Linked DNA regions of Homo sapiens. The protein of the gene in region 5 interacts with the protein of the main gene of each other region in a biochemical or structural test. Each region holds a gene or a part of one and is shown on either strand. Other genes may lie near its edges.

Region 1 (4,608 bases), on a different chromosome or scaffold from region 5:
TCCGGAAGGCAGGAGAACCTCCGGTCAAATATGCACCGGTGGAGGTGGGCATCCAGGGAACGAAAGTCATCGTAACTCCGGAGAACCGGCCAGGAACGGCCCTGTGGGAGCAGAGGGACAGAAGGGAGCAGGGGCCCCATGACACCGAGCTGAGGACTACAGTGGCCATTCTCTCAGGCTAGATGAGAGGCGGGATGGCCTCACCTGACAGGTCACCTGCACCCCGAACACCAGCTCATTCTCTCCAGAGAGGCTGGGCCCTTCACGGTCTGGAGACAGCAGGAGCTGCAGAGGGAAAGCAAGGCCCAGGTGGACTTTTGTCCCAGTCCTGACCTCCTGGGGATGGCACTATCTAGGGACGGGTTTGTGACTCCCTTCTGGACCTCCCCGAGGACAGGGCCTGGTGATGTCCTGGTCCCTGACATAGAGCAGATACCTAACAAAAGTTGTTGTTGAATGAATAAAAGAACAAATGGATGAATGAATGAGCAGCTCTCCCCATCTGCTGTGGCTCCTGCAACTTTTGCTACTGACTGCTCAGACGCGTGCAGCAGCCAGTCACAGGGATAAGTTTCAGAAGCAAAGCACCTGATATCGTTGCAAGGTTGGGTAGGATATTGTCTTCCCTCCTGGGTGCAAATGCAAAGCCCCCATACCTGAATGTGGCCAAAGTCAACGTTCTCGTAGTGGAAATGGGCGCAGTCAGCCAGCCGCGGGAAGGGGCCTCGAGGAGCTGAGAGCCTGGGAGACAGGGGATGCGTCACCAGCAGCTCCTTGAGTCTCCCCAGCTCCTAGCTGAGCCCTTTCCTCCCTCACCCTCACCTCTTCCCAGGCTTCCCCTTCACACTGGGCCCCCCAGCAGTGGGTAGAGGCTGCACCGAGCCCTCCCCTGGGCCATCCAGGCTGTCAGTGCTGCGTGCCTGTAGAGCAGAAAGAATCAGAGGCCCCCAGAGATGGGAGCAAAGAGACAACGAGAGCATTGTTATCTGGCAGCGCGGGTCCAGAGCCCCGGGCGCTCCACACACCGCCCTGAGCATGAAGCAGGATGGCAGGTCGGGGGAGGTGAGGGCTGGGCTGAGGACAGGACTGCTTCTTCGTGTGTGGTCTGGGGTGGGGGACTGGAGAAGCAGGGGCCAGACGTGAGGCGGGGCAACAGGATGGAGAGCATGCTGGTCCCATCTCTCCCTGCTGAAAACCCTTCCGTAGCCCCTGCAGAGTACAGTGATCTCCTACCACTGTCTAGACAATCACAACTCCCATCTCATCAGCCTTCCTGCTTCCAGCCTCTCCCCTCCTGCCAGCTTTTCCGCAATAGCCTGGATCGTTTTCAGAAAACACAAATCTGGCTCTATTTCTCCATAGATCCTGGGCCTTCAATGACTCCCTGTTGTCTTCAAGACGAAGTCTGAATTCTCTGGTCTGATAATCGAGACTTCCCTGAGCTGATTTCTGTTTACCTCTCCAGTCCCATCTCTTCCCATTGCCCCCACTCTCAGAGCTCTTGAACTTCTAAGAGTCCAAAAAAAGCACCCTCTTCTCATTTCCTTCTAGGCCTTTGCAAAGGCTGTTCCCTCAGCCTGGAACACTCGCCCCACCTTTCCCTGGGTACATTCATCCTCACTCCCACCCCTCAGGTCCCAACTCACATGTGCCCTCCTCCAGGAAGTTCTCCCTGACCCTTCAGGCTGCACCTGGCATCTCCTCTGGACTCTCTCCATCCCCTGAGGTTCCCCCATCCCAGGTTCCATGCCTTGACCAGAGCTTCTCCCTTCACAGCTCTGATCACTCTGAGATGGCACTGGTGGTGACAAGTTCATCTCTCTCATTGGACTATGACCGGCCTCCCAGAAGGAGGGCCCCAGACTGAGCTCCCCAGCATAGAGCTGGGCATTGAGTTGGTGTTCAGACATGATTGTTCCTGATTCTTTTCTGGGTCCCCAGTGCCAGCCCAGTCGCGCGCAGCAGGGACTGGGTAAAATCTGATGAATAAATTAACCAGCTGCCAGACAGATTCACTGGGCTGTAGCGTCTCCCTGCTCCATGTCCCTGCAACCCCCAGTCACCCTCAGGGTCTCACCCTCAGGGTCTGTCCCCCTCCAGCCCATAAGGTTCCCCAAGGCAGGATGGGAGCTGACTCTCTCTGTGCCTGGAGCGTGGGGCCTGCACAGAGGCGGTCTCAGTGAATGTCTGCTAAGTGAGGGAATGAATGGATGAATGAGCGGGAGCAGCATGGTGGGAGAGGGAAATGGTGGGGGAGGGGGATGAGGACAAGGAGATGGAGCAGACCCGAGGATCAAGGGAGGTACAGTGCTGGCCTGTTGGGGTGGAGTAAGGAAGGAGTGGCTGGAGAGACGAGGCAAAGGCTCAGACTGATGCGGGGCGGGGGGGATTGAGAGGAACTGGGATAGGGTGAAAATGAGGGAGAAGGAGAAGAAAAGGGTCAGGCTGGGGATGGAGCGGGTGGGGGGTGGGGCTCGGGAATGAGAAAGGGGCTGTGGGGAGGAGGAGGGGGCTCCGCCGGGGAGGGCTGAGGGCTGGCAGAAGGATGCCGAGGAAGGTGCTGGGATGGGAGCTGGGGAAGGACCCAGGAGCCTCAGGAGGCCCCTGCAGGGGCCACTTGGGTGGCGCGGGTCCCTTCCTGGACTAGCCCCGCCTCCTCCCAGCCCAGGCCCTAGGTCCCTGTCACCCCATCCAGGGCGTGGAAGACGGGGATGCGCGCTTAGGGGGCGGGGTCGAGGTACGGGCTGGGACCCGGGATGGGGCCGCAGGACGGGAGGGACCACGGCTGAAGCACAGGCCGCGGGATCGGGCGGGGCCGGGGGCGGGGCGCGCGGGGCGGGGCTGCGCACGGACAGACTGACATCCGGACGGACAGGCTGACGGCCGCGTGGGACCCTTACCACCATGGTCGCGTAGCCTCCTCAGGCCCCGGCCGCGCTCGACCCCTCGCTCGCCGTTCTCGTCGCCGCTGCCGCCGCCATGGCGACACAAAGGGGAGGGCGCGAGCCGCGCGCGGGCGGCTGCAGACCCCGCCCCTAACGGCTGCCCGTGGCTCCGGCGCGCGCCCCACGGGGGCGGGGGGCAGCGGGAACGCGGCGCTGCTTCTCATTGGCTCCGCCCTTGGCCTTAGGCCGATGCCCCGCCCACCCGGAGGCTTCTCATTGGTTTCACCTTGGGCTCCGCCCCGGCTCTGTGTCCTCGGTCCCGCCCCTCGAAGTTTGACAGCGCCACGCCCATGACTGCTTTTCATTGGCTGTCATCGCCCTCCTGAGACAAGCCCCCAGGTTCTTTATGCTTTGCTTCCGACACTTCCAACACCAAGCAATGGACCCTACCTTTCGTCCACTCCCAGTGTCCATTCTTCTGACTTTTTTATTTTTATTTCTTTAAGAGACAGGGTCTCACTCTGTCGCCCAGGCTGGAGCGCAGTCCTGCAATCGTGGCTTACTGCAGCCTCAACCTCCTGGGCTCAAGCGATACCTCCCATGTAGCTGGGACTACAGGCGTGCGCTACCACGCCTGGCTAATTTTTTTTAGACATGGGGGTCTCACTATGTTACCCAGGATGGTCTTGATCTCTGGGGCTCAAGAGATACTCCCTCCTCAGCCTCCTTTCAAAGCGCTGGGATGACAGGCGTGAGCCACCACGCCAGCCAGCCCCTGATAGTCTTAATTGGATTCTCCCACGGCCTCAGAGCAGTGCCCAGTTCCTTAAGCAGCTTTTCAAAGTCCCAGTCCCAAGTCTCACCTTTTCAGTCCTGATCCCGACCCCGCTCACATAATGCCGAGGACGCTCCGCCCATGGACGTTTCTCGTTGCCTCATATACCTTGCCTAGGACGTAACCCGAGGCTTTCTGCGATTTGGCCTCCCCTGCCCACTGGACATTTTCTTGTTTCCCCTTCTACTGCTTATTACGGGCCAATCTCCAGCCTTGATTTTTTTTTTCTAGGAAAATGCTTAGGGGGAAATGCCAGATCATGCTTATGCCCCCCATAAAGCCATTCCCAATGGAGCCTGCTAATACTGAGCATGCCCAGATAACACTGTAATAACGCCCTTCACAGGAGGGTCTCTCCTTAGTCATGCCCTCAACAAATTCTCATCTCAGAGGGTCTTGGTCTGTTCATTCATTCATTCATTCATTCATTCACTCAAACTCTAATCAATTTGTACATACATCAACAACCAAACCAGGAGAAAATATACCCTGCCCACATTGGAGCTCAAAAGCTACTGGGAGAAGACAATGAACAAAATTAACATTAAACAAAATATAGAATATTAGGCCAGGCGTGGTGGCTCACGCCTGTAATCCCAACACTTTGGGAGGCCGAGGCGGGCAGATCACTTGAGGTCAGGAGTTCGACACCAGCATGGCCAGCATGGAGAAACCCCGTCTCTACTAAAAATACAAAAATTAGCCAGGTGTGGCGGCGGGCGTGCCTGTAATCCCAGCTACCTGGGAGGCTGAGGCAAGACAATGGGTTGAACCCAGGTGGCAGAGTTTGCTGTGAGCCGAGATCGCGCCACTGCACTCCAGCTTAGGTGTTGAAGTGAGACTCTGTCTCAAAAAAAAAAAAAAAAAAAAAAAAAAAAAGCTGGGGAC
Region 2 (3,894 bases), on a different chromosome or scaffold from region 5:
CAATATAATCAGTTTATATAAACTCAAAATCACTAAGACACTTATATATTCATAGGGGGCCCCAGGTTCAGGTTTCACTTTATAGTACAGATGTAAACAAAAGAAGGAGCTCAAAATGCCAAATAAAGCAAGACTAAATAATAAAGCTGCATCAATGGTCTCTGGAAAGCTCTTTTCTATGATGTGTTTGAACTTGGAGAAAGCATCAAACTTTAATATAAGCTTTGCATGTTGCTAATGCGTTTTTGGAAGCCATAAATCAGGCAGGAAAAAAAAAACTAACAAAAACTAAGTGATACAACGTGAAAATGGCAAAATATACACTCCAAACATTTTTTATTGCAAGAAACAAAAAGCACACAACAGCCTGTACATACATACAAAATACTAACTATAGACAGACAAATGTAGAACATGTCATCATGTTCCTTAGTGTAAAACCTAAACGATCTAAAAAGGATCATACATTAACTGTACAACACAGTGTCATACAGGGATAATGCTATCATATTTAATATGAAACAGTGTTACGGGCACAAATTACCCATTTCTACAAAATAAGTGTGCAAGTGATGCCACATATTATCCATATTCAACTGAGCTGTCATCAAAATACATTTTATTTACAATATGTACTATGATCAGTTGGATATTAAGTTCTAAAATGATTTACTTCACTGCTACATTATAAAGGTAAAAGCAATGTGTAGAAAAAGTGTGAGATTGTGTTTTTACATACTGCTTTTGTAGTTGCCATCGCTGGTTCAGTTCGACTTCTAAAACACAAAATAAAAACAAAAATTAACATTAGCTATTTATGAATTTTTGTGCTAATAAATTTTAACACATTATCTTCAATAATACATTTTTAGGAACCTAATTTTCCTTTGGTATAAATATTTAACAGCCAATTTCTGAATGAATAAATTACTCTGATTAATCTTTACCACCTTTGAGCAGTTTTAAGATAGATTTGTGGTTTGGAAAAAAATTCCATACTAGGGAATTCAAAAATAGGTGTACCCTGCCACTTAAAACAAATGTTTTCTGAAAGGTAGTATAGGGATTTTATGTTTAGAAACGTAGTTTATTCTTAATAAACTGAAAATTTTAAATTATATAATTTCCCAGTTTCTGAATGCGTAAATTTTCACACATCAGGAAGACTGCTGTTGTTAACATTTGTAATTTGAATCCCTGAGAAATTGCTGTGCTCCCAAAACTAATTTTCAAATCTGGAGGGCCAGGCTGATAGCTATTTTCATTTTTCAAATGTCTCAAAACAACAATCAAGGATTGAACAAGAGGCCAAGGTGAGAGGATCACTTGAGCCCAGGAGTTTGAGACTAACCTGGGCTGTAACATAGTGACCCCATCTCTTAAAAACAGAAAAAAAAAAAAAACTGAACAAAAATTCTCACTCCCAGAAAAACACAATATAATCAGAGTATTTTAGTTAAAAGAACTGACTTAAATGGCTGTGTAGAACTGGACAATTTGATGTTTAAAAGACATAAACCCCAAAAGAAATTATTTTAATCCACACAGGAAAGGGGAAGAAGTTGAGTTGCTAGATTATAGCCTTTTAATGCTTAAAGTTTAAGGTATCTTGACTATAGAGAAATGTTAGCATCTAACAGGAGTTTCTAGGTGTGTGTATAATTTGGAATTTGAGATAAAAAAAAAACTGAGCTTTGATTTTCTAGTATTTGCTCAAAAAAAAACTGAGATGCATTTTATGAGGCAAATTTATTACAAACAGAACCCTATATATTGTACATTAACATATAATTCTGTGTAAGAGGCAACTTATTTTGCCATGTACTTCAAATAATTCTTAAGAGTTTCTATCAAAAAATCTACAGAAAATACATTTGCCATTTTTTAAAAAGCACTTGGTAAATTAAAGTAAAATTTCACACTGGATTGTAGGAATTAATTCTCCCCATAAATTTATAATTCTTAGGCTGGGTGCGGTGGCTCACGCCTGTAATCTCAGTACTTTGGGAGGCCAAGTTGGGTGGATCACCTGAGGTCAGGAGTTTGAAACCAGCCGGGCCAACATGGTGAAACCCAGTCTCTACTAAAAATCCAAAAATTGGCCAGGCTTGGTGGTGGGCACCCATAATCCTGGCTACTTGGGAGGCTGAGGCAGGAGAATCGCTTGAGCCCGGAGGCTACAGTGAGCCAAGATTGTGCCACTGCACTCCAGGCTGGGCAACAGAGTGAGACTCCATCTCAGGAAAAAACAAAACAAAACAAAACAATATATATATATACACACATATATATATAATTCTTAGAATCATTTAAAGTTAAGAACACACACCATTAAAAGTTCACTTGGCAATTACAACAAGGAAAGTATTCAGCTTTTTAAAGTAGCTATTATATGGAAGATACTGCACAAAAGGACCTCTAAGTGTTAAGATATGGAATATAACTTTACAACAAACTAATGAGAAAAATCTTAGAATACTTGCCCATATGAGGTAAAGCTCCAAGAAATGACTTTATTTTTACCTTAATTTCAAGAACACTTTCCATTCCCTAGCACTGGCAAATTCTAGAATTTTTCATTGACTCAAAATAATTTGTTCCAATTTCAAACAATACTACCTAATTCTAAGTGAAAATCACTACTCTTTAAATAACCTATGTTGCTGCCCTTTTCACATATTATAGTTCTGCTATCACTACTGAAATTGCAAGAAAGCAGAGAAAGTTAAGGATATAAGGTTTTAATCCTGCCCCAGGTTAGTGAATACCAGCTCCGGACTAGTTGTGAGACTGCTCTCTTCCTACTCCAATAATGTGCATTTAGCATGTGCCAGACACTATTTAATTCTTACAACCCTCTAGAGTTAAGTACTCACGTCCCTATTTTATTTTTGAGGAATCTGAGGCACAGAGACTTACCCAAGGTCCAAAGTCACACAACTGGTATGAAGCAGTAAATGGAGTCAAATCTAAGCCTGATTTCAGTGCCCATGATTATAAATCCTATATACTTTATGCCTCTCAGCCAAAGCCCCTTATTGATAAAGAGTAAATGTTAGCATTACTGAATACTCTTGATGCTGTCAAAATATTTAGGACCGATGTCTACAACACCAAATTTTTGTAGTGAAGAAAACTGAAGGAACCCCCACAAAAAAAAGTAGTCAAAGAAAGGCACAGAAATAATGTGAATATCACTTTCTTGTATCTGTAAATACTGGCCATATGGAGAAAAATTTTTCCTAATAATGGCCCTCTCACAACAGGCTAAGTCAATTTAACTGGGGGAGGAAATCAAAAACAAACGAACAAAGAAACCTACTATCCTCACAGTCTTGAGAAGATGTATTCATTAAGGTTAAAGTAATGAGTTCAGTTCTAAAATACAGTTTTTTCTCACAAAATTAAAAAAACTAAAAAAAGTCTATTTTGAGAAATACATGAGATTTGATACTTACATAACATATGTCTTGCTTGTAGATTTAACACCTCCAATAGGAATTCTTCTAACAATTACAGAAGAATTCTTAGGAATCAGAGCATTATCATCAGTATATTCTGTAAATAAAAAGACAGAATTGAATTTCCATTTGGGGATTTGAGTGCGTAACCAAGAATTAGAAAACTTCAAATATAAATTTCATGGGAAATGACTTTAAATATAATAACTACAAGTTCCTTGCAACTAGATTACTGATATTGTCAGAACAAACATCCAAAGCCCTAAGAGGGCTTCTTTTCAAAGGACAACCAATATCATCAGCAGGTTCTTGGCTCTAGCACTTCTACTTTTGTGGAACTCCAAATCTCAGTAACACCGTCATTCTTTAGTTTAGTCTGAAATGCTGAACATGTGAATGGTGAAAAAGCCGTTATTCGGAATGAAGATATTCT
Region 3 (3,894 bases), on a different chromosome or scaffold from region 5:
CTCCTAAAAATACAAATAACTGAACTCTAAGAGGAATCCAAATTTACATTAGAAATGGGAAAGGAAGGAGTGAACTAGATTGTATAGCTTTTATTAACAAAGGATATGAGTTATCTGTGAAGAAAACAGTGATGGAAGTTGCATTTTCAGTATGAACTGAAGGTTGTGATTAAGCAACTCTTTATTATCTATCTTCCTGGAAATAAAATCCAAGAGCAGTACTATCAGGATCCTCTTTTTAAGAGGATTTTCCAGAAGATTTTCTCTGGAAAGAATGCTACACGTAGAAAAAAAAACACTAAGCATAAATCCAAAATATAAATCACCAAAAAAGAGAAGAAAAATTAAACTTTGTGACATTTGCTCTGGTTTTAACAGGCAAATTATTCTGCCTAATCTTTAAAAATAGTCTTTCAAATTATTTTAATGGTCTTTTTTTTTTGAAAAAAGTTATCTTAAAGGCAACAACAAACTCCTTTCTTGAGGAAAGGAAATGAAATTATAAGAATTTAATAAGTTTGCCAGAAAAGTATAAGTTATCTTAATGTGGGACAAAATACCTGAGTTTAGAGTATTTAATATTTTTATATTCCGTTTCCATCCTTACCTCTATTTCTCTTTCAGGATTCAGATCATGATCCCACAGAATTATTTTTCTGTCTTTCCCTCCTCCAGTTAATAACATCCCATTTCTCATCTGACAAAGTGTGAACACACTGCCATCATGAGCTTTGATTTGTTTGCTGATTTGATATACACCTAATATGAGGGAAAAATAAAAACACTAGTGATAATACTTTTCTTCAGATTTTAGTGTCTATTTGGAAGAAAACTTCAGTAGAACTAGAGTTAATAATCAGAAAGTTCATATGACTCAATCAAAAACCTATTTTCAGCAAGTCTTTTGTGCAAAGCAGGTAGTAAAGTTTAGGGTATAATACAATCTTTTGCATTTCTGTCAATATTTATTTACTCTGAAAATATTTCAAAATATTTTCCTACAAAAAACCAAAGCAAAAGTAGTGATAATTCCACAGACGAAAGGGGATATAGTATAGGTTTCAGAACTTTACTATCTCTCATAATCATCTTGTATGGTAGCTAGGGTAGGTGTCACTCTTCTGATATGAGAGCTCAAGACACAAGAGGTACAGGAGCAGCTTAGGGGATACCACATAGTTAGCTAATAACAAAGCTGTGACTAGGCTCAAGTCTCCCACCTTGATGTTCCTTTAACTTTGCAAAAACATCTTTGGTTGACCTTCTGAGGTAACAGTCACAACGTTTAACGTTTTACAACCATTGTTAACCCAGAGGCCTTCTGCTGTGCCAAGGATTACTCCCCTTTATTTGCTGAGATATGGGGGCACTACAGAAGTTATTGGGACAAAGGTAGGCAATGGATACCTGCAGTGATGGCTTTTGACCTACTAGCAGAGAATAATTTCAGTATTTTAAAAATTGATTCAGCTGTACCAATGTGATGGCTAAATAACAGCCCAGTTTTCTTGTATACCCATAGCACACTTTGTTAAGTACCCAGGGAGAGACCAAGGGGGTACATAAAAGGTCTTTTAGGCAAACACATGTGGTTTTTTAAATTATATTTTGCCCCCTTTTAAGGGTGAGAATAAGATGATAGTACTCATACCTTTTTCTTTGGTATTCATAAATGCCTTACTCAGAGAAGCTCTTTAGCTAGATAGGCTAGCAGAGCAAGAGTAAAGCTTTTTGGAAGATGATGTCCTACAGAATTAGTTACCAGGTTCAAAATGGGAAGGTAGAACCTTATTGAAATATGGCCAAAGTAAGTCAATAAACAGCCCTTAGTCCTCTTGAAAAAATTCAGGTTTAACAACTATTCATTTTCTAAAACTGTTCCTCAACTGATGAATAGATTTTAAAAACACAGTATGTCTATACAATGTGATATTACTCAGCCATAAAAAGGAATGAGGTATTGACACATGCTACCACCACATGGATGAATCTTAAAAACATAATGCTAAGTGAAGGCTGGGCACTGTGGCTCACACCTGTAATCCCAGCACTTTGGGAGGCCGAGGTGGGTGGATCACCTGAGGTCAGATGTTTGAAACCAACCTGGCCAACATGGCAAAACCCTCTCTACTAAAAACACAAAATTAGCCGGGCATGATGGCACATGCCTGTAATCCCAGCTACTTGGGAGGCTGAGGCAGGAGAATCGCTTGAACCTGGGAGGCGGAGGTTCAGTGAGCCGAAATCGCACCACTGCACTCCAGCCTGGGCAACAAGAGTGAAACTCCATCTCAAAAAACAAACAAACAAAACAAAACAAAAAAAACTAAGTGAAAGAAGCAAGTCATAAAAGACCACACATTGTATGACTCCATTTATATGAAATGTCATCAACAAGTAAATCTATAGAGACCTAAAGGAAATTGGTGGTTACCTAGGGGCTGAGGGGAGGGAGAAATAGAAAGTGACTACTAATGGGTACAGGCTTTCTTTTTGGGGTGATGAAAATGTCCTTAGGTCAGATAGTGGTGATGGCTGCACAACCTTGTAAATATACTAAAAACCACTGAACTTAAAGGCATACTTCAACAGGGTAGATTTCATGGTATGTGAATTATATATCGAAGTTGTTACTGAGATTGTTCTTTTTTACTCATCTATTTGAGCTGCTATTATACTTAACAAATTGACTAAAATTTCTAAGGCTTTGGTATCCTAAAAAAAATTATGTCTCAGTTTGAGTATGCTAGTGGTACAAATACTTAACAGATGGGTATATATGGCAGGGAGACAGGAAAGGGCTTGCTTGATTTGGAGGAGAACTTGCCCAATTCAGCAGAGCTGGAAGTAGAACTCCAACAAACTTGCTGTTCAGGTCAACTGTCTCCACTTACATCAATATTTATCATCTAAAAATACCTTAAAAATTGAACAACACAACTGTGTTCACTGGCATAGGTAGATAAGTATCTATCTCTGTTCTGATGTTACCACGAGAGGGAGGACACCTGAGAGATGAGAATTTTCTGAGAGTACTACTGGCTTTATTTGGATAATAAAAATAGAGAAAAGCAAATTCTAGGCTTATTTCCCTGTGCATGGTCAAACTAACAAGAGTAGCCTGAAGGTATCATGTAAGAAAACACAAAAAGCAAAGGTGTGGGAGTTTCATAGTTCTCTATCAGAATGTAAGAAAATAAAGCTTTTCTATGCTTAAGTCTGCTTTCCGTATTTCTAAACATGACAAAAACCTTGTTAAACACTTAAAATCCTCCCAGAATGATGGAAAACTGGAAAAAAAAATGAAGAAAAAAATGCTTCATCAGAAATAAAAATACTCTATATAGTGATCAAGTCAGTGAGTCCTTCTCACTCCAGGAAAGTTATTTCCTGAGGTGGACCTAGTATCGACTTAGCTTAAAAAATTTAGTGTTTCTAATTTAAACAAATTATCAAAGTTTCCTTTATATAGTATTTACCTGTAAAACAAATTTATAGCCAAAGATGTCTTTCTTATGGGCCTGTATTTCTGATATTTCAGTTGCCAAATAATGTTTGAAATCCCTGCCAAGGAAAATAATTATCCTTGAATTAAAAAAACCTACTCTGCCTTCAGGCTTACTCATATGGTCAAGTCCATCCAAACTTAATCACAAACCTCACCCTTTCTTCTCATCTCTAACAGACACAAAGCTTCCATAAAAAGCAAGTTTACACTGCCTGCCAAATAAAGATGTTTGGAAGGCTTTCTGTGCCTGTTTAAAGAATAAAATATTAGGGAGACTTTGAAATTTATGTTGTATTCTTAGCAACTGGGCCCATTTGATTATTCGGAGAACACATAAAATGGCAGTGTTTCTTAGCTCCTTTGCAAGACTTAAGAATGGTGAACAT
Region 4 (3,894 bases), on a different chromosome or scaffold from region 5:
CTGTTACCACAATATGTTCCTTATTAATTAAATCTGGACTCTGAAGCAAAAAGCCCTGGCTGTTTCTCTGGGCAGCCCCACCGTCTTCAAGGAAGTCACAAAGATGGATGATTCCTGGTCTAGTTCCATTATGGTATGGAAGGAAAGAGTCTAATGCAGTTATAGACGTTAAAATGTGAAAGAAGGGAAGACTCTTAACACTAAGTAAATATATTACATATATCTTTTTCATATTAAGAATGACTTTCTTCACAGAATTGGAAAAAACTACTTTAAAGTTCATATGGAACCAAAAAAGAGCCTGCATCGCCAAGTCAATTCTAAGCCAAAAGAACAAAGCTGGAGGCATCACGCTACCTGACTTCAAACTATACTACAAGCCTACAGTAACCAAAACAGCATGGTACTGGTACCAAAACAGAGATATAGATCAACGGAACAGAACAGAGCCCTCAGAAATAACACCACATATCTATAACTATCTGATCTTTGACAAACCTGAGAAAAACAAGCAATGGGGAAAGGATTCCCTATTTAATAAATGGTGCTGGGAAAACTGGCTAGCCATATGTAGAAAGCTGAAACTGGATCCCTTCCTTACACCTCATACAAAAATTAATTCAAGACGGATTAAAGACTTAAACGCTAGACCTAAAACCATAAAAACCCTAGAAGAAAACTTAGGCAATACCATTCAGGACATAGGCATGGGCAAGGACTTCATGTCTAAAACACCAAAAGCAATGGCAACAAAAGACAAAATTGACAAATGGGATCTAATTAAACTAAAGAGCTTCTGCACAGCAAAAGAAACTACCATCAGAGTGAACAGGCAACCCACAAAATGGGAGAAAATTTTCACAACCTACTCATCTGACAAAGGGCTAATATCCAGAATCTACAATGAACTCAAACAAATTTACAAGAAAATAACAAACAACCCCATCAAAAAGTGGGCGAAGGACATGAACAGACACTTCTCAAAAGAAGACATTTATGCAGCCAAAAAACACATGAAAAAATGCTCACCATCACTGGCCATCAGAGAAATGCAAATCAAAACCACAATGAGATACCATCTCACACCAGTTAGAATGGCAATCATTAAAAAGTCAGGAAACAACAGGTGCTGGAGAGGATGTGGAGAAATAGGAACACTTTTACACTGTTGATGGGACTGTAAACTAGTTCAACCATTGTGGAAGTCAGTGTGGCGATTCCTCAGGGATCTAGAACTAGAAATACCATTTGACCCAGCCATCCCATTACTGGGTATATACCCAAAGGACTATAAATCATGCTGCTATAAAGACACATGCACATGTATGTTTATCGCGGCACTATTCACAATAGCAAAGACTTGGAACCAATCCAAATGTCCAACAATGATAGACTGGATTAAGAAAATGTGGCAAATATATACCATGGAATACTATGCAGCCATAAAAAATGATGAGTTCATGTCCTTTGTAGGGACATGGATGAAATTGGAAATCATCATTCTCAGTAAACTATCGCAAGGACAAAAAACCAAACACTACATGTTCTCACTCATAGGTGAGAATTGAACAATGGGAACACATGGACACAGGAAGGGGAACATCACACTCTGGGGACTGTTGTGGGGTGGGGGGAGGGGGGAGGGATGGCATTAGGAGATATACCTAATGCTAAATGACGAGTTGATGGGTGCAGCACACCAGCATGGCACATGTATACATATGCAACTAACCTGCACATTGTGCACATGTACCCTAAAACTTAAAGTATAATAATAATAAAAAAAAAAGAATGAAGTTTTCTAAACACTTTTCATTAGCTTTTAAAGCAAATGAAGAAGGCAACATTTGGATCACTTACACCCTCTCCGAGAAAGACCCCAGCAGAAGCACTGGTAAGGAGGCCCAAGTGCAACATCTGGCCAGGGGCTTTTTACACTTAAGGGAACTTCAGTGAAGTCAATAGCAAATCAGGTGGTGTCTGCAATTTTCTTTCATAAATAATCATACATTGTAAATATTATTTGGTCACAAAGATGTAAGTTTTAGAAGCTTTTGCATATAACATATTGACAATGATCCTCATCATTTTTATTAAGCTATGGACATCATGACTGGAGCATTCTGATTTGTCTCCTGTTCCCTCAAGTTTGTTGAATTAAACTGTTGTGGCTTGCTACTCAAAGAGAGGTCGCCAAGCTAGCAGTACTGCAGTCACCTGGGAGCTTGGCAGAAAAGCAGACTCTGAGATTTCATTGGAGACCTACTGAATTTTGGCAAAGACCCTGGGTGACTGGTATGAACATGAAAGTTTGAGAAGCACAGTTATCCAGCTATCATGTAAATGAACTGCTGTTAGCCAATTACTAAGGCTTATATTTAGTGAGAATAACCAATTAAAAAATGTGACATGTAGCTTTTAAGACACTTCAGAAGGAAATATAACATAATCTGAGGTAAAAGAAAGCATGCCTGTTTCAGTTCAGCCTCATTTAAGATGTCTTCTCGCTTTTTTTTTTTTTTTTTAGTATGACTCATTTCTTTTTCTTCATTCCTGTCGCACATCTTACCTCCTCCTCACTTTGTGAGTCAAACTTACCTTCAAGCAACTTAGGCAATCTCTGTGTGTCCTGAGAAAATGACAATGACAATAGCAGGATTGGGAAACCAGAAAGGCAGAACTTGCCCCACTGACTTTATTAAGTTCAGTTCATGTTCAGTATAACAGTTTAGAGCTTACAGATGTTGCGTCGTGACCATTGACATTTACCACCAACCTATGAGGTTGGCAAAACAAGTAACATCATCATCATTTCCCACTTAGAGCTAAAAAACCTAAGATTTCAGAAGATTCAGTGGCACATCCAGCAGCCCATACCAAACAACAGGCGGACTGTGGTGAGATGCTGGTTCCTGACTCCAAACCTTAACTCCTTCCCTGGACTGAAGCCTCTATCAGCAGGGGTCAGAGAGAATGTGGTTATGAGCATCACTAAGGTCAGCAATAAAGTGCCTGTCTCTTGGATTGGGAGTCTTCTGTATGCAAAATGCTCTCCTATACCTTATGGGAAGGGATAAGGTCAAAGAGTCTGCATCGGAGACTTTGCCTGCCCAACCCCCAGGCCTTGAGCATGATCACATGCTCCGTATGTTTTCTTCCAGAAGAAAGGATTTTCAATCTGCATTTAGAGAGAAGGAAGAAAATGGTATGAGCATGTGGAGGGGCGAGGCCTTTCAAGAAGCATGGAATTCCACCTAGGATTTTGCTTGTATGTTTGTTGCAGATGCCAAGTGGGCATGAGAAAGAAAAGCAATTCAGGAGGGGGAAGAAGTGAGGACTTGCATCTGGTGCTGCTTCACCATGATCATCATTTTCACCATCCTGCTCAAACACTCCCAGCAATCAGACTCTATGTTCAGTACTTCACATTGATTTTCTCAATTACTACTCAGACGTCAATCCTGGAAGGTAGGTATGTGCTCCCATGTTAGAGATGAAAACACTGAAGTAAGAAAGACCACAATATTTGCTCACGGTCACAGAGCTACTAAGAAGTGCAGTGGTTTATACCTCAGTATTTTGGACCTTGGAGCTCAAATATTGAGCGATTAAGGCTACTGTTTCTAATGTTTCATCCGTATCCACATGCCCTGTCGTATGTCCAGGGTCCTTGATTCCACCTCTTAAATCAGAACTGCTGAAGATGGGCTCCAGGCAGCTGGAACCTACACATGACGCTAGTTAATCTGATAAACATTGAAGACAGGGAACTGCTGCTGTAGGTTATTTGACCTCTAACTGTACATACATTGGATTTGGGGTTTGACATGAGAGACAAATGGGAGATAAAATCTATTTATTAGCCTAAGAAAGAGATGGCATTATATTACAGAG
Region 5 (3,894 bases):
TTGTGTTGAAAAGGACGTCCTGCGCGAACACTGGCCATCACATCGCTGCCCTCAGCACACATCATGCTCCATAGACATGTTTTTCAGTTACCAAAAAAAGTGTCAAAGCAAGTGAATGGCAAGTTGAAAGTGCCTTCAAATCTCTGAGACATGACCTACGGCGTGGGCAAGCTGCTATGAGGATAAATGGGAACACCCTGCTCCTTCACCCTCCTCTTGAACTTCACCTCATTATGTCACCAGGAAATCTCACAACCTCTCAGGGAGGACTCCCCAAAAACTGCCCAGGTCATCAGCAGTCCAGGCATGACACAGTTTCTCCAACAAGGGAGAAATGAGAGGGGTTGGGTAGGAAGTAAAGCCCCATCAAGGAGGCGCTGGTTCCTGGGGAGGGGAGGAGGGAGACTCCTCCCCCATTTCCCTGCACGTCTGAGGGCAGGGGGTTAAGGAAGGGCTCCCTTAAATGCCCAGGCAGTCTACACAGGCACAGGCAGAAAGGGGCTCCAGACGTCCATTGGGCTAAATCGCCAAGGTCCAGAGAGGGGAAGGGATCAGCCACGGGTCCACAGCAAGCAGGGGCCGAGCTGAGTCTAGAACCTGGTCCACATGGAGTCCACTTCACAGCCTGTGGCCTCTTGGTGGGCCCAGGTGGGTCTGGAAGGGGACACACTTGGGTCAGGGACAGGGAAGGTGCTGCAAAGACGCAATGTGGTTGGGCTTTGTCTGGCTGTGGTGGTGGCCAGAGGGAAGGGAGGGAGAGCTGAGAGTAAGGGTCCCTGTCCTTTGAATCTCTGCCATCAGGGGCTCTGCTCCCAAGCTCCAGGCCCTCCCGGATGTAACACAGAGTGTCTATGATCTGTCTTCTCCACTGGGCTGCACCCTGGTGTCCAGCATTCAGTGGTGATCAGAAATTGCACAGAATGAATGAACACACGCCTGCGTTCCAACAGGACCCACCTTCTTGTCCCACGCTTGGCAGCTGCCGACCCCACCAGCCCCCGCACTTGAGAGGTTTTGGGTTTGGGTTCTTTGCATGAATGATGTGATATGTCAACAGTCACCCCTCCGAAAACCACGTTTCCTTTTGTTTTGTAGGAAGCACCTCGTGCCCTGGCACATCCTGTTGACTTCCCATGGGCTACCTGTGGAGTGGGACCCGTGTTCGGGAAGGCGGCTGGCATTGGCGGGCAGAGGTGGCAACCATGACAACTGGGCTGCCTTGGGCGGCGAGCGTACCACACACCAGCGCTGCCCTGAGCTCGTCAGACATGCTTCCTCACTGACTCCTCCAGCGTCCCTGTTGTCATCATGCCCCCTTTACAGATGAGGAAACTGAGGTCCTGAGAGGCCCATGGCTGGCCTGCAGCCACACAGCTAGTGAGCGAGGGGTGTGTCCTCTGAAACCCCGGCTTGGTGCCCTTGGCTGCATGGCAGCCCTGGAGAAGGGACCAAATCCCCTCTGCAGCCATGTGGGTTTACGCCAGGCTCAGGCTCCTGCAAGGCAGGGGCTGCGGTGGCACATCTGTGTGACCAGGGACCAGACCAGGCTGTGCTCAGCATGCTCACCTGTGGGTTCCTTCACTCGGGGAGAAGGGCACATGAGGTGGGGAGGGGGCAATGGGTGATCAGGACAAACATTCCTCAGGGCTGGGTAAGTGGCAGCAAGCTGACCATTACTTAAACATTTAAACAATGTTTTCGAGGGATATTTTTTGACCTATAATAGTTAGTGGTAAGGACACCTCCTGCCTCCAGCCTTGACTCCCTCACCCACTGTGGCCGGGGGCCACCAGAGCAGGCACTCACAACTCACACCCAGCCATGGCCCCCCGACTTGCAGCCACTTCAGGGGCTCCCCTTTTGTTCTGAGTGTGTATCTGGCTCTGCTGCCATGTCCAGCCTTCTGTCTCCCCAACCTCCCATAATCCACGGTGCTGCGGTGCCTGGAAGAAGGCTCACTTCGGCCTTCCAGATTCTGGGATGGTGCCCTGCCCTCTGTGAGGCCTGCCCAGGAAGCGGGTTTCCCTGGGGCTCCTGGCCCACCAGTCAATCTGCATCACCCTGGAAGGTCACCATCTGCTTCCTACCTGCTTCCCCACCAGCCTGGAAGTCCCCAAGAGCAGGGCCAAGGCCTGAGAACACAGGGCAGCGTGTGGCAGAAAAAACTGCTAATCTGAAATTCTGCAGCTGTGGCTTCGGCGGGCAGCCCTGCCACCAGCAGTCCCACTTTGCTGGAAACTGCCGAGCAAATCCAGTATGTTTCATGGGGGGCCGGGTGCGGTGGCTCCCGCCTGTAATCCCAGCACTTTGGGAGGCTGAGGTGGATGGATCACCTGAGGTCAGGAGGTTGAGACCAGGCTGGTCAACATGGTGAAACGCTGTCTCTACTAAAAATATGAAAATTAGCTGGGTGTGGTGGTGGGTGCCTGTAATCCCAGGAGACTGAGACAGGAGAACTGCTTGAACCGAGAAGGTGGGGATTGCAGTGAGCAGAGATTGTGCCACTGCACTCCAGCCTGGGCAACAAGAGCAAAACTCTGTCTCAAAAAAAAACAAAAGAAATAAAAAATAAAAATCAGGTGTGGTGGCATGCGCCTGTGGTCCCAGCTACTCGGGAGACTGAGGCGGGAGGATTGCTTGAGCCCAGGAGTTTGAGGCTGCAGTGAGCTATGATCATGCCACTGCACTACAGTCCAGGCAACAGAGTTTGCCTCTAAAATAAAAAAAAAACCCACCACCACCACCACCACCACCACTACCAACAAAACCAAAGAAAAAGGCTGAGAGGAGAGATGGAAAGAGGATGAGAAAGAGAAAAACAGGGAGACAGACATAGAGACAGAGGCAGAGCCAGACAGGCTGCAGTCTGGATGTGGTCCCCACAATGAACTCCTCCCCTAGCCAAGCCTGGTCCATAGGCCACTGCGAGGCAGGGTCAGGGCTGCCCTGTGGGGAAGGACTTCTATGCCGGGTACTGCCATGTACAAGCAGGAGGGGCGTGCAGCAAGGAGGAAAGGCTGTAGGCAGCGACCCCAAGGGCTGGGCAGAGCGATGAGGCGGGCCGCTCCTGCCTGGCCAGGAGAAAACTCACTAGCCGCTGCCCCTAGAAAGCTATCGTCTGTTAACTTAGCAGGGGCTGCGGATTCCTGGCACCCAAGGGCTGTGATGGACATGATGTGGCCCAGCCGCGGCCCCAGAACCTCCCCGAGGAGGCAAAGCTCCCGCTCGGCCCAGGGTGCTCACCTTCAAGAGGCCGATCTCCTTGACACAGTCCTGCCTCGCCTTGGCGTCCATCATCTCAAAGATCTTGGGCGGGAGGAAAAAGAGAAATAGAGTGGTTACAATCTGTGTCCAGTGACCCAAAGGAGGCCACGGGGTCTGCTTTCCAGTCCCGGCTCTCCCACCTCCTCACCAAGGGACTCTGTGACCCCCCCCTGCACTCCCAGCCCCTGTAGGGCTTGCTCACTGTGGGTCCCCCCAGCACTGTCCCACCACAAAACCCATCGTGGCACTAAAGAACCAAGACAGAGAGCCCAGGTGAGCCCCTCCCCAGAAGATGGAGAGGGCGGGCCAGGCACAGTGGCTCACACCTGTAATCCCAGCGAGGCTGAGGTGGGTGGATCACTTGAGGTCAGGAGTTCGAGACCAGCCTGGCCAACATGGTGAAACCCCGTCTCTACTAAAAATATAAAAATTAGCTGGGTGTGGTGGTGCACGCCTGTAGTCCCAGCTACTCAAGAGACCTAGGCAGGAGAATCGCTTGAACCCGGGAGGCAGAGGTTGCAGTGAGCTGATCACGCCACTGCACTACAGCCTGGGTGATAGACTGAGACTCTATCTCAAAAAAAAAACAAGATCAAGAGAGAAACTGGTCCTTTTTTGGACAGAGAGGAC
Region 6 (3,894 bases), on a different chromosome or scaffold from region 5:
TTTTTGGTAGAGACGGGGTTTCTGCATGTTGACCAGGCTGGTCTCAAACTCCTGACCTCAGGTGATCTACTTGCTTTGGCCTCCCAGCGTGCTGGGATTACAGGTGTGAGCCACTGTGCCCAGCTGCAGACTTTTATTCTTTTTTCACTGGCCTCACGAAAGAATTTTATTTTCTCATTTACTGTGACTCTTACAAGCCCTGATTGGATTTGACTTCCTAAAGAAATCCCTGAGAGACTTATTTTTTCCAAAACTGATTCCTTTGCCTTTTCTTTTTTTGGTGGGAAAAAACAAAACCGTTTGATCCCTTACAATCAAGAAAAAGTGTTGGCACTATTTAACTTAATTGTAAATTTGTGATGGCATATGGGATTTCAAAGTTGTCATAATTTCCACAGCATTTCAGGGTTTAAGAAAATCCTGTAAGAAAAATGACCATGTTATTTTTCCCCTTTTTTGTTAGGATGGGTAGGATCTCTCAGGTAGTAAGAAAGTCTCAGAGCTTATAACTAGTTACTAAAGAGACAGCACTGTTTAATTTCCATTCAGATGTAATCTAGTTAGTGGAGTAAAGTTTTAGAACTCTGTTTCTAACAAAAATATTTTATCTTAATTCCCTTAGGCTTTTTGGTGGGGAGTGGATTATTCTATAATTTTTTTTTTTGTCCTACATAAAATCGTTAACTTTGTCTTGTTTCACTTAGATTGCTTATGGGAGATGAACGTGTAAAGAATGGCCTTAATTTCATGTATGAAGCCCCACCAGGAGCTAAAAAAGGTACTTATCTTCTTCCGTTTCTTTTTTTCTTTCTTTTTTTTTTTTCTGAGGCACAGTCTTGCCCTGTCGTCCAGGCTGGAGTGCAGTGGTGCCATCTCAGCACACTACAACCTCCATCCACCTCCTGAGTTGGAGCAATTCTCCTGCCTCAGCCTCCCGAGTAGTTGGGATTACAGGAGCACGCCACCACGCCTGGCTAATTTTTGTATCTTTAATAGAGACAGAGTTTCACCATGTTGGCCAGGCTGGTCTTGAACTCCTGACCTCGTGATCCACCTACCTCGGCCTCCCAAAGTGCTGGGATTACAAGCGTGAGCCACCGCACCTGGCCTCCTTCCTTTTCTTTTAAGTCTTTGATGTGTTTGCAGCTAAACATGGAAAAGTACTATGACAGATATTTTTTTAAAGTTGCTCTCCATCTTTTAAAATTGCTGTTATCCTGTGAAGATAATAAAAACTATAATCATACAACAGAATAAATACTAAAAAATATCTTTCTAATCTGATAATATTTCATAATGTGCCCTTTGAGAAGGAAGAAACTTTCATGTCCAAAGTACACTTATTCTTTAATAATTTGCATATGTATCTTTAGTCCTTCTTACTAAATATTTAATGCATTTGTAAATAAAAAACATAATATTCACTGTCAATGAACAGTGAAAAGTTTAAAAACTGTGAATTAACATACTTATTAATTTTAATTTTGTATTTTGTCCTGCAATAGTCTGAATTTTTATCATGTGAAAGAAGAAAAAAAGTCAAACCAATGAATTCTTACAAGTGACAATTAAATAACATGATATCATAGTGTATACAGTAGATTTTTATATTGAAGTTTTTAACTTGTCATACCTTTTTTCTTCCATATTTTTGATATGCAATCAAGAAAACAAAGAGGTAAAGTACTATTTTCTATGTCTGAATTTACTTGCAGTTGATTGTATTATATGGAAAAATTAAAAGAATTTTCAATGAATGTTTTTAGAAAGAAGAAACAGAAGGAGAGACCGAATACAAATTTGAATGGCAGAAAGGAGCCCCACGAGAAAAGTAAGGACTGGTTTACTTTTAAGACAAGATATGTATCATTAAGTTTACATTTACTGATATCCCATCTTATGTTGCTTTTTCAATCATTAGAGGAGGCAACTGATGTGAAAAGTTATCTTTAATGATTTTAATTAGCTGTCTTATTCAACTAATCTGCTTGCTCATAGTCTTTTGTTTTATATACTTTTTCATTTTTTTAATATCACAAATTATCAGACTAGACACATAATAACTAAATGGTGTTTGGAAATACTAGATAGATTTTATAGTTCTGTATTCTTACTGAAGTAATATATTTCATAATGTTCTTAGAACTGTAAAACTATTTTTCTGATTAACTGCTGTTTAATTTTTTAAATTATTCTTAATATTGTGTTTGTACATTTCCTCTATTTAATAGATATGCCAAAGATGACATGAACATCAGAGATCAGCCCTTTGGTATTCAGGCAAGTGACACATATTTTACTCTGTAAGAATAATTTTTATTTAATAAATGTATCTTTATATTGTTGTCTAAAAGGTGTTTAAGCTGAAAAGGGGCACTATGGTTTTTATTTGTATCAGATAATATAAGGAATAGAGGAGAAAACATAAAATGTAGTAGGCTGATAAAAGACAGAAATCAGGCTGGGTGTGGTGGCTCATGCCTGTAATTTCAGCGCTTTGGGAGGCCGAGGCGGGCGGATCACAAGGTCAGGAGTTCGAGACCAGCCAGGCCGACATGGTGAAACCCTGTCTCTACTAAAAATGCAAAAAATTAGCTAGCCATGGTGGCAGGCGCCTGTAATCCCAGCTACTCAGGAGGCTGAGGCAGGAGAATCGCTGGAACCCAGGAGGTGGAGGTTGCAGTGAGCCGAGACTGCACCATTGCACTCCAGCCTGGGCAATAGAGCGAGACTCCATCTCAAAAAAAAAAAAAAAAAAAAAAAAAGACAGGAATCAAACTTTTATAGTGAGAGCTATAATGATATTGGTCTCTGCAGTTTTCAAAAAATTTGGAGAATCAGCTCAAGGTCAAGAAAAGATTTAAATCTATTATTGGTTTAGAATCGGGACAGACTATCATCAGAGGGCAAATCCTTGTAAAGAAAGTTTTATTGGAACACCGCTTTGCCTATTCATTTACTTATTGGCTGTGGCTGCTTTCCCACTGCAGCAGCAGAGTTGAGTCGTTAGAATAGACAACATCTGTCCCAAAAAGCCTAAAATATTGACTACATTTGGACCTTTACAGAAAATGTTTACCAGCTCCAGGTTTTGAAATTTGAAACTTTAAAGGTTTACTTATTAAAATGAGAGAATTTAAGCTTAAATTCTTCACATAACGCCCTAATTCTTTTTGGTATTTTACCATTTCTTTTTGGATGACATTATATTGCCACCAAGTGAGAGGCAAAAAGAAATGGGATTCAGCTTAGTTTCTAGGCAAAATTTATAGTGAAAGATTTTAGTCTTTGTATTAAATTACCAAACATAGTTTGGAGTCTTTTTCCCTGGAGATCTTTTAAAAATGTAATTTAGCTTAAATTCTATCAAGGAATAGGAATTTGAACATTGGTTAGATTCTTACTTTTTTAGTAACCAAAATCACATTCATTATTTCTCAGGTTCGAAATGTGAGGTGCATTAAATGTCACAAATGGGGTCATGTCAACACAGATCGAGAATGTCCTTTGTTTGGTCTTTCTGGAATCAATGCAAGTTCGGTTCCCACTGATGGCTCAGGTAGGCACTAGACATGATTTGTTTCGGGAGAGGACAAACAAGGAAAGATAAAACAACATTTTTCTTTACTCTTTCTGGGTATTGTTTTATTTGGGTTTGTGTGTGGGGCTTGTTTGTTTGTTTTTGACTAAGACCATTCCCAAAATATGATTAATGGGAAACTCTGATCATATATGTTGAATTAAAATGCTGTGTAATAGGATTAAGTTTAATTTTTCCAGCCAAAGGCCCTATGAACTAAGTTTTAAAGTAAAATACATTAAACATAGTTTATCAGGCTAGTAGCCTAAAAATGGAAGGAAAAAATGCTTATTTCTCATACTCATATCCTGAAT
Region 7 (3,894 bases), on a different chromosome or scaffold from region 5:
TATAAGCACCCACTGCCACACCCAGCTGATTTTTGTATTTTTAGTACAGATGAGGTTTCGTCATGTTGGCCAGGCTGGTCTCTAACTCCTGACCTCAGGTGATGCCCCTGCCTCAGCCTCCCAAAGTGCTGGGATTACAGGCCTGAGCCACTGCACCCGGTAGGTTCTGGGGTTCTACTGTAATGAGATTTGGGTGAAAAACTAAGGCAGAAGGGAGGATGAGGAGAGGCTGGCCCATGGGTACAAAGTTACAGTTAGGAAGAAGAAATTGGGTGTTCCATTGCACAGGAGGGCAATGATAGTTGACAGTAAAATATCATGGCCAGGCATGGTGGCTCATGCCTGTCATCCCAGCACTTTGGGAGGCCAAGTCGGGCAGATCACTTGAGGTCAGGAGTTTGACAGCAGCCTGGCCAACATGGTGAAACCCTGTCTCTACTAAAAATACAAAAATTAGACGGGTGTGGTGGTGGGCGCCCATAATGCCAGCTACTCAGGAGGCTGAGGCAGGAGAATCGCCGGAACCTGGGAGCTGGAGGTTGCAGTGAGTCAAGATGGCGCCGCTGCACTCCAGCCTGGGCGACAGACCAGGACCCTGTCTCAAAATAGTAAATAAAAATAATTTTTAAAAGATGCTGCTAGGGTAAGCGTCCTGGACTGGTGACTGATGATGAGACTCTGGACTGAGGGGTCTCCCATGGTGCCAGTCTCCCTGTGCCACTTCCTGGCAAATGACCAGGCTCCCAAGTCAGAGCCCTGCTGGCCAAGGAATTGGCTTCAGGTGGGAGCCCCAGGAACCCTGGTGAGTGAAAGATCCAGAACCCAGAGCCCCAGCATGTCCTTTCCGAATGGCTCAAAGTATCCCGCCGGACATTTCAGGCCTGTAGTCCCTCCAAGCAGCCCAAGGAGCAGCACCTGAATCGTGCCCGCCAGATACCAGGCATGGCCATCCACAGTCTCACCTGGAACACACAGCCCCTCCAGCTGCTCCTGCCTCTCAGAGGCTTCCCTGGCCGTGAGCAGTCACTCCACCAGGAGCGAACCTGACCTTGGCACTCCAGGGTCCCTGCAAACCCGCCACATTAGAGCACCTCTTGGCACCGCCATGCAGGCAGCCCTGGTTCATCCACAGCTGACCCAGAGCAGGCCTCTGCCCGCCTTCCCCGCATGGCCAGCTCAGATCCCTGGGAAAGGCTGGGCTCTCCCCACCTGCAGAGGAGCCCCCTGCCTTCCAGGAACCTCTGCAGTGGAGCTGCCACTGCTCCAAGTAAGGCAGACAGTGGGAAAGGGGAGTCCAGAGTCCTGGCCCCAAGAGACCTAAGCTGCCTTTGAGAAGCTGCACCCACAGTGAGAAGCCCACGCCACTCCTGAGAAGCGGGAGATCCAGGGAAGTGGGACCTTTTTTTTTTTCTTTTTTTCTTGAGACAGGGTCTCGTTCTGTTGCCCAGGCTGGAGTGCAGAGGTGCAATCTCGGCTCATTGCAGCCTCCATCTCCTGGATTCAAGCGATCCTCCCACCTCAGCCTCCCCAGAAGCTGGGACTACAGGTGTGCAACACCATGTCCAACTAATTTTTGTATTTTTAGTAGAGACGGGGTTTCACCATGTTGGCCAGGCTGGTCTCGAACTCCCAACCTCAACTGATCCGCCTGCCTCCACCTCCCAAAGAACTGGGATTTTAGGCATGAGCCACCGCGCCCGGCCCCTTTTTTCTTTTTTCCTATCAGAACCTCAAATGACTGGCAAGGAAGGGGGAGAAGGTTATTTGGTGACAGGAACAATGGGCCAAGGGTGGGGACTGTATGAAGTTTGAGGAGAGGCAGATGCTCCTAGCCTCGGAAGAGGTGGGGGATTCCAGCAGGGCTTCTGGGAGTGGTTGGAGGCAGGCTGTCACTAGCCCAGGCGCTCAGCAGCCCCACTCCTGGCCATCCGCATCCCCAACGGTGGCCCCCAGACCCAAGCCACAGAGCCTCCCCTAGAGCGGAAGCAGAAGGGGCCCCACCAGGAAGCTGTGTGCTCACAGGGAGGTGTTGCAAGAAGCTCAGGGAGAAAGCCCAGGAGAAGCAGAGGGGGCCTCTCTGCCCCAGGCCCTCTGAGGCTGTCAGCGAGAGCAGGAGCACCTTAGAAGCTCAAGCTCTGGCCCCCGCTGAAAGCCCTGCCACAGATCCAGCTCGTGGACCAGCTGTGCAAGCCAGGGCAAGCCCCATCCCAGAGCCTCAACCTTGCGTACCTATTTTTTTTTCTTTTTTTTTTTTTGAGATGGAGTCTCACTCTGTCACCCAGGCTGGAGTGCAATGGCAGGATCTCAGCTTACTGCAACCCCTGCCTCCCAGGTTCAAGCGATTCTCCTGCCTCAGCCTCCCAAGTAGCTGGGATTACAGGCGCCTGCTACCACACCCAGCTAATTTTTTGTATTTTTAGTAGAGACAGGTTTTCACTATGTTGGCCAGGCTGGTCTTGAACTCTTGACATCAGGCAATCCACCCGCCTTGGCCTCCCAAAGTGCTGGGATTACAGGCGTGAGCCACTGCGCCTGGCCTTTTTTTTTTTTTTCAACTGAGACAGACACAGAGTCTCACTCTGTCACCCAGGCTGGAGTGCAGCGGCGCGATGTCAGCTCACTGCAACCTCCACCTCCCGGGTTCAAGGAATTCTCCCACCTCAGCCTTCCGAATAGCTGGGATGACAGGTGCATGCCACCATGCCCGACTCATTTTTTTTTTTGAGATTGAGTCTCACTCTGTCGCCCAAGCTGGAGTCCAATGGCGTGATCTTGGCTCACTGCAACCCTTCCTTCCCAGGTTCACGCGATTCTCCTGCCTCAGCTTCTCTAGTAGCTGGGACTACAGGCACGCACCACCACACCTGGCGAATTTTTGTATTTTTAGTAGAGATGGGGTTTCTCCATGTTGTTCAGGCTGGTCTCGAACTCCTGACCTCAGGTGATCCACCCGCCTCGGCCTCCCAAAGTGCTGGGATTACAGGCGTGAGCCACCACGCCCGGCCCCAGCTAGTTTTTTTATTTTTAGTAGAGATGGGTTTTTGCCATGCGGGCCAGGCTGGTCTGGAACTCCTGACCTCAAGTGATCCGCCCACCGGACCTCCCAAACTGCTGGGATGACAGGTGTGAGCTGCCACGCCGGGCCAGCCTTGTGCATCTGTAAAATGGGGGTGCATTGCCTTACTGCCCTGTGGGGATTTGGGAGTGGAGGGTACGGATTTAGGGACAGGCAGGCAAGGTGCTTGCCTGGAAGCTGCTTGTGTTTTCATGAAGGCATTAACTTTGGAGTGGAGGGTACGGATTTAAGGACGGATTTAAGGACAGATTTAGGGACATGCAGGGAGTGGAGCGTACAGATTTAGGGACAGGCAGGCAAGGTGCTTCCCTGGAAGCTGCTTGTGTTTTCATGAAGGCATTAACTTTGGAGTGGAGGGTACGGATTTAAGGACAGATTTAGGGACATGCAGGGAGTGGAGGGTACAGATTTAGGGACAGGCAGGCAAGGTGCTTGCCTGGAAGCTGCTTGTGTTTTCATGAAGGCATTAACTGTGGAGCTGGGCAGGAGGTGCGGGCCTGCTCCCTATTCACCCAGCACAAACTTCTAAGAAACCTTTGGCAGCCTCCCTCCCCTGCCACTGCCACACCTGCCTGCAGGCCACACCTCCCCCTGAGTTTCAGGCCCAAGTTCTGCCTGGACATCCCCTCAGCTACCTTGAACACAACAGGTCTAAGTAAATCAGGCTGGGCGTGGTGGCTCACGCCTGAAATCTCAGCACTTTGGTAGGCTGAGGTGGGCGGATCACGAGGTCAGGAGTTCAAGGCCAGCCTGGCCAATGTAGTGAAACCCCAGCTCTACTAAAAATACAAAAATTAACTAGGCATGGTGGTGGGCGC

Evidence for each region.
Region 1: the proteins of NEK6 (region 5) and ARHGAP33 form a complex in vitro, tested with the Homo sapiens proteins (one study listed by BioGRID).
Region 2: the proteins of NEK6 (region 5) and RBBP6 form a complex in vitro, tested with the Homo sapiens proteins (one study listed by BioGRID).
Region 3: of the proteins of NEK6 (region 5) and EML4, one has a biochemical effect on the other in vitro, tested with the Homo sapiens proteins (one study listed by BioGRID).
Region 4: the proteins of NEK6 (region 5) and PTN form a complex in vitro, tested with the Homo sapiens proteins (one study listed by BioGRID).
Region 6: the proteins of NEK6 (region 5) and CIRSR form a complex in vitro, tested with the Homo sapiens proteins (one study listed by BioGRID).
Region 7: the proteins of NEK6 (region 5) and PRAM1 form a complex in vitro, tested with the Homo sapiens proteins (one study listed by BioGRID).

The regions. Positions count from the first base shown.
Region 1 is NC_000019.10:35,773,957-35,778,564, reverse strand, and holds the start of ARHGAP33 (rho GTPase-activating protein 33), read right to left. Parts: upstream 3,002-4,608; 5' UTR 2,907-3,001; coding exon 2,901-2,906; intron 2,468-2,900; exon of another isoform or gene 1,038-2,467; coding exon of another isoform or gene 921-1,037; coding exon 823-920; intron 742-822; coding exon 657-741; intron 286-656; coding exon 205-285; intron 102-204; coding exon 1-101. UniProt on the Homo sapiens protein: May be involved in several stages of intracellular trafficking. Could play an important role in the regulation of glucose transport by insulin. May act as a downstream effector of RHOQ/TC10 in the regulation of insulin-stimulated glucose transport.
Region 2 is NC_000016.10:24,545,827-24,549,720, reverse strand, and holds part of RBBP6 (E3 ubiquitin-protein ligase RBBP6), read right to left. Parts: intron 3,559-3,894; coding exon 3,459-3,558; intron 777-3,458; coding exon 740-776; coding exon of another isoform or gene 686-739; exon of another isoform or gene 320-685; intron 1-319. UniProt on the Homo sapiens protein: E3 ubiquitin-protein ligase which promotes ubiquitination of YBX1, leading to its degradation by the proteasome.
Region 3 is NC_000002.12:42,298,106-42,301,999, reverse strand, and holds part of EML4 (echinoderm microtubule-associated protein-like 4), read right to left. Parts: intron 760-3,894; coding exon 608-759; intron 1-607. UniProt on the Homo sapiens protein: Essential for the formation and stability of microtubules (MTs). Required for the organization of the mitotic spindle and for the proper attachment of kinetochores to MTs. Promotes the recruitment of NUDC to the mitotic spindle for mitotic progression.
Region 4 is NC_000007.14:137,333,421-137,337,314, forward strand, and holds part of PTN (pleiotrophin isoform 1 precursor), read right to left. Parts: intron 1-3,894.
Region 5 is NC_000009.12:124,313,335-124,317,228, reverse strand, and holds part of NEK6 (serine/threonine-protein kinase Nek6), read right to left. Parts: intron 3,307-3,894; coding exon 3,244-3,306; intron 1-3,243. UniProt on the Homo sapiens protein: Protein kinase which plays an important role in mitotic cell cycle progression. Required for chromosome segregation at metaphase-anaphase transition, robust mitotic spindle formation and cytokinesis.
Region 6 is NC_000002.12:174,378,588-174,382,481, reverse strand, and holds part of CIRSR (corepressor interacting with RBPJ 1), read left to right. Parts: intron 1-704; coding exon 705-778; intron 779-1,667; coding exon 1,668-1,678; intron 1,679-1,766; coding exon 1,767-1,831; intron 1,832-2,231; coding exon 2,232-2,280; intron 2,281-3,441; coding exon 3,442-3,559; intron 3,560-3,894. UniProt on the Homo sapiens protein: May modulate splice site selection during alternative splicing of pre-mRNAs. Regulates transcription and acts as corepressor for RBPJ. Recruits RBPJ to the Sin3-histone deacetylase complex (HDAC). Required for RBPJ-mediated repression of transcription.
Region 7 is NC_000019.10:8,492,395-8,496,288, forward strand, and holds part of PRAM1 (PML-RARA-regulated adapter molecule 1), read right to left. Parts: intron 1-3,894. UniProt on the Homo sapiens protein: May be involved in myeloid differentiation. May be involved in integrin signaling in neutrophils. Binds to PtdIns(4)P.